Linked DNA regions of Homo sapiens: region 2 is linked to region 1. The links come from fine-mapping of genetic effects on gene expression. A gene starts in region 1. The other region holds a variant in brackets. All regions are shown on one strand. Distances are from middle to middle. Region 1 holds the start of FA2H (fatty acid 2-hydroxylase). Region 2 overlaps WDR59 (WD repeat domain 59).

Region 1 (4,394 bases):
ATGTCAGCCACTTTGCCTGGCCTCATGTTATCATCTTACATTATCACAAGAAGAGTGAGTACAGTACTATAAGATGTTTTGAGAGAAAGGGACCACATACAAATAGCTCTTATTACAGTATATTGTTGTAACTATTCTATTATTGTTGTTGTTAATCTCTTCCTATTGTTCTTAATTTATAAATTTAACTTTATCATAGATATGCATATATGGGAAAAAACATAGCATATATAGGATTCGGTACTATCTGTGGTTTTAAGGATCCACTGAGGGTCTTGAAATGTATCCCCTTGGACAAGGGGGAACTACTGTATATCTAAGCATGATGGCCCCATACCAGTCCCAGAGCCAGGCCTGGGGAACATCAAGAGAGTCGCTTTGCCTCTGGCCTGAGCCTACCTGGAATCCTGTGGACTAGGTCTGTCTCCTCCACCCGAAGACTTTTGGGATGGAGCCAGCATTGATTTTGGAGTCAGATACATGTGGCTTTCCCACTATTTAGCTATTTGACCTTAGGCGCATTAATCAGAGCCTCCCTGAGCCTCAGATTCCATATCCTGAAATGGGAATAACAAAACCTGCCCCAGGTTGAGTTAAGGACTTAAATACCATCGGGAGCTGGTACTGCACAGAAGCGTGCAGCTCAGCACACAGTCTGGTCCAAAGTGCTGGTCCCTTTTCCTTGGCAAAACTGGCTCATGCCTTTCATTTCACTCTTTTGGAGTCCCAAGCCAGCGTGTAGGACAAGAATATAAGGGAAGGTCTGAGAGGTTGGAGGACACAGTCCACCCCAGACATGGCCCAGGCAAGGCCAGGGCGGCACCAGGAAACCCAAGCTAGTGAGAAGAGTTACTGATCTGTGCCTCTTTGAAGCAGAAGTGAGGTGGGATGGGGAGGTGGGAACAGGTTGAGCCCATTATCCAAACAGAAACGGAGAGTGGTTGCAAAGAGGGAGAGGCCGATAAGTGAAGAGGAAGGAAAGCCGAGGCGTATGGGGGGCTGGGGACAGAAACGGGAATCCAGGTTGTCGGAGGGCAGGGGCTGCAGAAGGAACACGCTGGAAGGAGGGGTGCTGGGGAAATGGGAGAGCTGGCACGGAGGCGGGCCAGGCGGTAAGGGTGGAAAGGAAGAGCAAGTTCCTGGAGAGAGGAAGGAGGGGTTGGAGGGGACGACAGTGACCTGTTGCCTGGAGAGAAGAGAGGGAAAGCGAGGGAAGGGAGGGCAGAAGCTGTCACCTTGGGTCCTGCTAGAGGGCAAGTGAACGGGGCTCGCCCGGGAGTGGAAGGCTGACGGAGGCCTGGGTTGGGGTGGGGGGCCCCGGCCCGGCTGTACCTGCTGCTCCCCGCGGAGCTCTCCCACGTAGTACTGCTCCAGCCAGCGGCGCGCGTTGGCCGAGTGCCTGTGCGGCGGCCCGTCCAGGTCGGCGCTGATGTCCTGGCCCGCCCTGGCCCGCAGCAGCTGCTCGCCCCCCGGGTGGTGCCGCACGAAGCTGGAGAGGTCGTAGAGGCGGGCCCCGCGGCGGACCCAGCACGCGCCGGCCGCCAGGCGCCGCTGGACCTCGGAGGGCGAGAAGGAGGCGGCGGGGGGCGGAGCGGGGGCCATGGCCGGAGACCGCAGCTCCCAGCGCGCAGCCCGGCGTCTGCTCTGCTGCCACCCTGAGCGCCTCTAACATCCCGGGAGCCCCGCGGCCGTTCCGGGCGGGCCGCCACCGCACCTGCTCATTTGCATACCGCGCTCCCATTGGCCGGCCGGGAGCCCCGGCAGAGCCGCGAGGGGCGGGCCCGGCGCCGGGAGCTGCGCGCCAGGTGGCCGCGGACAGGGAGTGCCGCGCCCGCCAGGTGTGTCCCGCGCGGGAGGAGGGTGGGCGGACACAGGCGGAGCGAGTCTCCCCGTCGCGGGTGGTTGTCTGGGCGGACATCCTCGGTGGCCTGATCGCTGCTGGAATAACTTCAACTGCTTCCACGGAGGAGCTGGCCGCATGGGACCCTCTGGCTCCAGGAGGTGCCCGAGAGAGCGAGAGGCGAATGAGGTGCTCGCCTCGGGTGCAAATATTTGTTTGTTTTTAAAATTTCAGTAGCTTTTGGGGTACCAGTGGTTTTTGGTTACATGGAGGAATTGTATAGTGGTAAGTCCTGAGATTTTAGTCCACCTGTCCCCCGAGTAGTGTACATTATACCCAATGTGTAGGGTTTTGTGTGTGTGTGTGTGTTACACCCCCTCCCATTCTCCCTATTGTCCATTATATCACTCTGTATGCCTTTGCGTCCTCATAGCTTAGTTCCTACTTATGAGTGAGAACATACAGTGTTTGGTTTTCCATTCCTGAATCACTTTCACTTAGAATAATGGCCTCCAGCTCCATGCAAGTTGCTGCAAAAGACTTCATTTCGTTCCTTTTTATGGCTGAGTAGTATTCTATCGTGTATATCAACTACATTTTCTTTATCCACTCATTGGTTGATGGTTATTTAAGTTGGTTCCATATCTTTTCGATTGTGAATTGGGCTGCAAAAAACAAACATTCGTGTGCAAGTGTCTTTTTCATATAATGACTCTTTTCCTTTGGGTAGATACCCAGTGGTGGGATTGCTGGACCGAATGGTGAATCTACTTTTTCTCTCCTCCCCTCCCCTCCCCTCCCCTTCCCTTCCTTTCCCTTCCCTTCCCGTGACAAGGTCTCACTCTGTCACCCAGGCTGGAGAGTAGTGGTGCGATCTTGGTTCACTGCAGCCTCGACCTCCCGGGCTCAAGCAATCCTCTTACCTCAGCCTCCCAAGTAGCTGGCACTACAGGCATGCACCACTACGCCTGGCTAATTTTTGTATTTTTTGTAGAGACGAGGTTTCACCATGCTGCCCAGGATGGTCTCAAACTCCTGGGCTCAAGCGATTTGCCTGCCATGGCCTCCCATAGTGCACTTTTTTTTTTTTTTTTTGAGACAGAGTCTCACTCTGTTGCCCAGGCTGAAGTGCAGTGGCACAATCTCAGCTCACTGCTACCTCCGCCTCCCGGGTTCAAGCGATTCTCCTGCCTCAGCCTCCAGAGTAGCTATGACTATAGGCGCGTGCCACCACGCCCGGCTAATTTTTTTGTATTTTTAGTAGAGACGGGGTTTCACCATGTTGGCCAGGTTGGTCTCGAACTCCTGGCCTCTAGTGATCCTCCCGCCGCAGCCTCCCAAAATGCTGGGATTACAGGCGTGAGCCACCGCGCCCAGCCCCAAAGTGTACTTTTAGTTTGTTAAAGAATCTCTGTACTGTTTTCCAAACAAGTTGTACTAATTTACATTCCCACCAGCAGTGCATAGCATAAGCATCCCCCTTTCACTACATACACGCAGACATCTACTGTTTCTTGACTTTTTAATAATGTTCGAGGGCAAAATTTAATGGGGCACCCCAAAACTCAGTCATCACTATATCTAATACCTGAACGTAATATTTAAAAAATTATATTGTTGGCTGGGTGCGGTAACTCACACCTGTAATCCCAGCACTTTGGGAGGCCGAGGTGGGCGAATCACGAGGTCAAGAGATCGAGACCATCTTGGCCAACATAGTGAAACCCCATCTCTACTAAAAATACAAAAATTAGCTGGCTGTGGAGGCACGCATCTGTAGTCCTAGCTACTTGGGAGGCTGAGGCAGGGGAATCGCTTGAATCTGGGAGTTGGAGGTTGCAGTGAGCCGAGAACGCCCCACCACACTCCAGCCTGGCGAGAAAGAGAGACTCTGTCTCAAAAAAAAAATTATTTTGTTGCACAATGTGAATGTTCTTAATGCCACTGAACTGTACACTGAAAATGGTTGGAATGGTAAATTTATATTATGTATATTTTACCGCAATACAAAATATTTAAGAATGTTTTAAAAAATCACATTGTCAAAAGACAGGGGTGAGGGGTGGGGTTGGGGGCGTGGCATTGGCCACCTGTTTTTGTAAATAAAGTTTTATTGGAACCAGGGCCAGGGATTCCTGAGACAGGGATGTGAAAGTGCAGGGTTAGCTCCTGTTTTTATTTAAAATTTTGATATTTTGTCCATCATGGATTTTTTTGCATTAATCTTGAAGTTTTACAATACTGCATTAAAATATTATTTATCTTGGTTACTTTTTTTTGTTTGTTTTTTGGCATGCCTGTAGATTTTGCTCTCAGGGTTAGTGCCTCACTCCCTCACTCTAATCCTGGGCCCTGGGGAAGGACCTGAGGGGAGAACAGAGAACACTGTCTCCATTACAGAAGGGGAAGTAGGGGCCTACAGGAGTAAAGGCTGGGGGTGATGCTGTGTGGAAAGGAGGACTGAATTTGTTCATCACAGTTTTGTTTAGAACAGGAAAAACTTGGTTGGACATGGTGGCTCATGCCTGTAATCCCAACCCTTTGGGAGGCCAAG
Region 2 (4,394 bases), 120 kb after region 1:
AAAGAATAAGCAAACAAAGATACTGAGAAACAGGTCGAGAAGCATTAGGCATGCAAAATCAATTAAATCACGTGGCACCAACATACTTGAAAAATATACAGAAGGTATTGTCGAAAAGGAGAAACTTGAAGTTCACATTCATCTCTATAATCAATAACCTAGTGAATCAGCACTAGAGGAAGTTAATGACTTTCTGGGATGAGATAAGATGTTTACTACCCTGGCTGACAATTTAGACGTGTTATTTCCTCACTGATAATACACATTTCCTGAATGCCTTCAACAGAAACAGTGACTCTTGCATTTACTTCTGCAACTCTTTGCAAAACAGTAAACATATCTTCAACATGAGCATAAAGAACAAAAAGACTGGGTGTGGTGGCTCACGCCTGTAATCCCAACACTTTGGGAGGCCAAGGCAGAAGGATCACTTGAGGCCAGGAGTTCAAGACTAGCCTGGCCAACATGGTGAAACCCCATCTCTACTAAAAAGTACAAAAATTAGCCGGGTTTGGTGGCACGCATCTATAATCCCCGCTACTCGGGAGGCTGAGGCAGGAGAATCGCTTGAACCCGGGAGGCGGAGGTTGTGGTGAGCTGAGATCGTGCCACTGCACTCTAGCCTGGGCGACAGAGTGAAACTCCATCAAAAAAAACAAAAACAAAAACAAACCACTGAATGGTGTATTTTAAATGGGCAAATTGCATGGTAGATGGGCTATATCTCAGTTAAGCCGTTTAAAAAAATACAGAGATAATTTGTTATAATACACTGATATGTTGCTGCAAAGATGAAGAAAATTTAAATATTTGTCATGTTAAATCATATTTTAAAACTGAACATCTCTATCTAAAGGAGCACTTTGGTAAATATTTCATAAAATGAAGCATTTTAGAAAGAAGGAACAAATGACAAAGAAATAGACATGCAAGTTTAGCTACACAGCAATCACTGATACTGGAACAGAAAAGAGATGTATAATTAAAAAAATTCATCGATGCTTTAGGACCTTCCCAACTGAGCACCAAAAAGAAAAAATTTCCAGCATTTGGAAAGCCACTCTAACCCTACAGACTGGCAAAGAAAATGGAAAATGAATTCCAAATTAAGACACACACTTTGAAAATGTCATTAAATGCCAATGACAAAGTAAAAACAATTTGCTCCTGAAGAAAAATCCAAATCTCCACCAAAAGGGATGGACAATACCTGGACAAGATCCTTTCTTCCAACGAGCAAGGCAGAGGCGGCATTCTTCTGACATGTTTCCTGAATATCATTCACATTCAATCTGAAATTTTTTAAAAAGAATTAAACATTTCTTTCTAGTGTAACTTCCCAAATCAACGACTCCCAGTTTAACAGACAGATGAGAACCTGACTCTTTGGTTATCACTCAAAATGTTTTATTCCGCGTTGGCCTTGGGCCCCCTTTCTATCTGACTCAGAGGAAAAGCTTAACTAGAGCTGAAGCTAATACATCTGTGGGTTCCAGCCTGGGGAACTTGAAATTGCACACCTCTTTAAAGTCAGGAGGGCAGGCCATACTCAAATACCAATTTACCAACCAGCTTTTCTATGGAGTTCCCAAGCCGTGAGGGTTGAATAAAAATGAATTGAAATACATGCGACACTGACTATGGTTCCTAACAGAAAGAGTAGTGTGCTGTGTGTAGACTACAAAGGAAACACTTTCTGTTATGAGTTCGAGTTTAGGAAGAGGCAGGGGAACTACAGGTGGCCTCTGCATGCCAATTACTCACCTCTCACTTCC[A/G]TCCAAACAAAAGTAGCCCTGCTTTGCATAACAGCTCTTCTGCTTTGTAAAGTAGCATGCCTTGTACAATACTCCACCCCCTTTGAATGTGGGTGACACCAGTGAATATTGATGGGATATCACTTCTGTGATTATGTTATTAAGCAATTGACTTTGAAGTCACCTACAGAGAGACTATCCTGGGTGGGGCTGACCTCATCAGGTGAGGCCTTAGAGGGAAGGTAAAGCATGTGTGAGCCATTCCTGCTGGTCTCAAGACGAAATTTACAGATGAGTTCTACAGCTGCAAGGGTCTGAATTCTGCTGACAACCTGAACAAGCTTGGAAGAGGAGCTTTGCATCGGATGAGACCACTGCCTGGCCAACACCATTTCAGCCTGCTGAGACCCTAAGCAAGGACACAGAAAAGCTGTGTCCAGACTCGCGACCCACAAAAACTGGAAGATAAGAAATGAATGTTGTTGGAAGCTGCTAAGTTTGTGGGAATTTGTCCACAGCAACAGAAAGCTAATACATTGGGCTTTTCCTAAAACTGCTTTTGAAGAAAGGATTCCCACACTCAAAAAAAAAAAAAGTTTTGCTAATCCTGGCTAAATGATGAGTGCAGCAGACTTGAAATTTTGTACTTACATGTACAGCTCTCCCAGCGATTTGTGAACAGGCAGGAGGCAAGCAATATCCTGGATGATGACTTTCCCAGCAGCCTTGATCTGTCGATTGCCAGAGTCTGATCCCTCACGCTTACTTTTCCATCGTCTTGATTTCTAGGGGTAGATGACAGGATGTAACTAATGGGGACTTTGACAAGTGGAAACCAACAATTGCAGAGCTCATCATATTGGGGTCATTGGCAATTTGCACTTTTTAAAAATTACATCATGCCCACAATTATGGGAATCAGCATCTGTAGGAAATAAAAGGATGAGCTCTTGTTCCAAAAATCCTAACAGGAAAATAAGCACCTACTGCCAGGCTAGATACATTCTGCAGGTGCTCAAAAACACATATCAGGAAGCCAGGATTAATACATTAATTAATGAATTTGAAAACAGCAAGTAAATAAGTTAGTAAAGGCCACAAAAATGTGGGAGAACAATTTTTAGATTGAATTCAGTCCTAGGTTCAAAATTCCTGCCTGAAACTCATCAAAATTTTTTTCCTTAGGCAGTTTGAACAGGGTTTGTTGAAAATTTATTGCAGACATAGCAGTGTGGGCTCTGCAAACCTTAATCTATATGGTAGGAAAACAGAGAAACTTTGCACCTTGAGGAGAATTACCCCGTTTTTCTGGCAGACTTGAATTATTTCTAAAAGTGATCGTTCTCAATGTCAAAAATACCTGATTCAAGGGGCTTGGGTAACAGACATGGAAGATTGTGGGCAAGTATTCGATTTCCCCAGGCTTACCTATGGGTGGCTACATGTGTGAGGAGCCTGTATGTGTGAAATGAGAGATGTCCTGAAAAACTTGAATTATCAGAGCACAGCCCCATCTGGAATCTTTAAAATGACAAACCAAGGAGCAGGATTCCATTTTATTGCCAGAAGTTAAAAAGGGGGTCACCAAAGTGATTCAACTAAGGAAGGAGTGACATATTTATTAACAAAAAAAGGCAAAAGGAGCTAGTAAAAAGGCCTCCAATTTGGAATTAGAAAATCAAGATTTCCAGGTCTTACTACTACATGTACTGGCTCAGCAGGACCCTCGGCAAGTTTTTATTTGTTATGAATTTAGTCTAAGGCATGTGACTTTGTTTGCTCACTGACAACTTATGGCCAATCATGACCTCTGTTGTTCCAATCTCACAAGATTAATGAGCGTACAATGAAGAGGCAGGGGTGCAAATTAAATGGAAAAGTGTACTCTAGAAACATGTAACTATTATGAATGTATATAAACTCTCAGGAATTTAAATTGGACCATTATTTAGATTACTCACAAATAAATTCATTTTCTGTAAGTGATTTTTATACAATCATTCTTCCATAAAGGGTTTCTGACCACTGATATCCCATTTAATACCTAAAGTTGTCCAATGCATGTAACTTCCTATAGGGTTATCATGTGTCTTGGAACCTACTAAATTCAGGACATGTGGAGTTAGTTCAGGGCAGGTAAATGAAGAAGTTTAGCTGAAGTATCTGTGAACTGTTTATCATCATTTGTAAATGCATGTTACACTATCAATTTGGAACTTTAACCCGTTTGATCTTTTTATTTTTTTTTCTTTTGAGACAGAGTCTTGCTCTGTTGCTGAGGCTGGAGTGCAGTGGTGTGATCTTGGCTCACTGAAATCTCCGCCTCCGGGGTTCAAGTGATTCTCCTGCCTCAGCCTCCCGAGTAGCTGGGATTACAGGCATGCACCATCATACTCAGCTAATTTTTGTATTTTTAGTAGAGACAGGGTTTCACCATATTGGCCAGGCTGGTCTTGAACTCCTGACCTCAAGTGATTCACCCACCTTGGCCTCCCAAAATGCTAAGATTACAGGCATGAGCCACCACGCCCGGCCCCATTTGATCTTAAGAAGCAGTTCAGTGACTATTTACCATTTATCCATACCCAAGTCATTATTCTGCAATACAAGGGGAAGCTTTATCAATTATTATGGGGTAGC

What was found. PIP is the estimated chance that this variant, and not a neighbour inherited with it, causes the effect.
Region 2: its variant is the best candidate, but not a certain one, in a credible set for the expression of FA2H in whole blood (TOPMed, PIP 0.61).

The regions. Positions count from the first base shown.
Region 1 is chr16:74,773,154-74,777,547 of GRCh38, forward strand. FA2H (fatty acid 2-hydroxylase) reads right to left here and starts at 1,667. Exons shown (of 7, transcript NM_024306.5): 1 at 1,333-1,667. The coding sequence starts at 1,602. RefSeq lists silencers at 1,304-1,353, 1,394-1,763, 1,774-1,903, 1,914-1,973.
Region 2 is chr16:74,891,274-74,895,667 of GRCh38, forward strand. It overlaps WDR59 (WD repeat domain 59), which reads right to left. Exons shown (of 26, transcript NM_030581.4): 19 at 2,406-2,539; 20 at 1,211-1,292. Among named protein-coding and RNA genes, the nearest start is that of WDR59, 92 kb to the right of the region's middle. The variant A/G (reference allele first, on the strand shown) is at 1,776.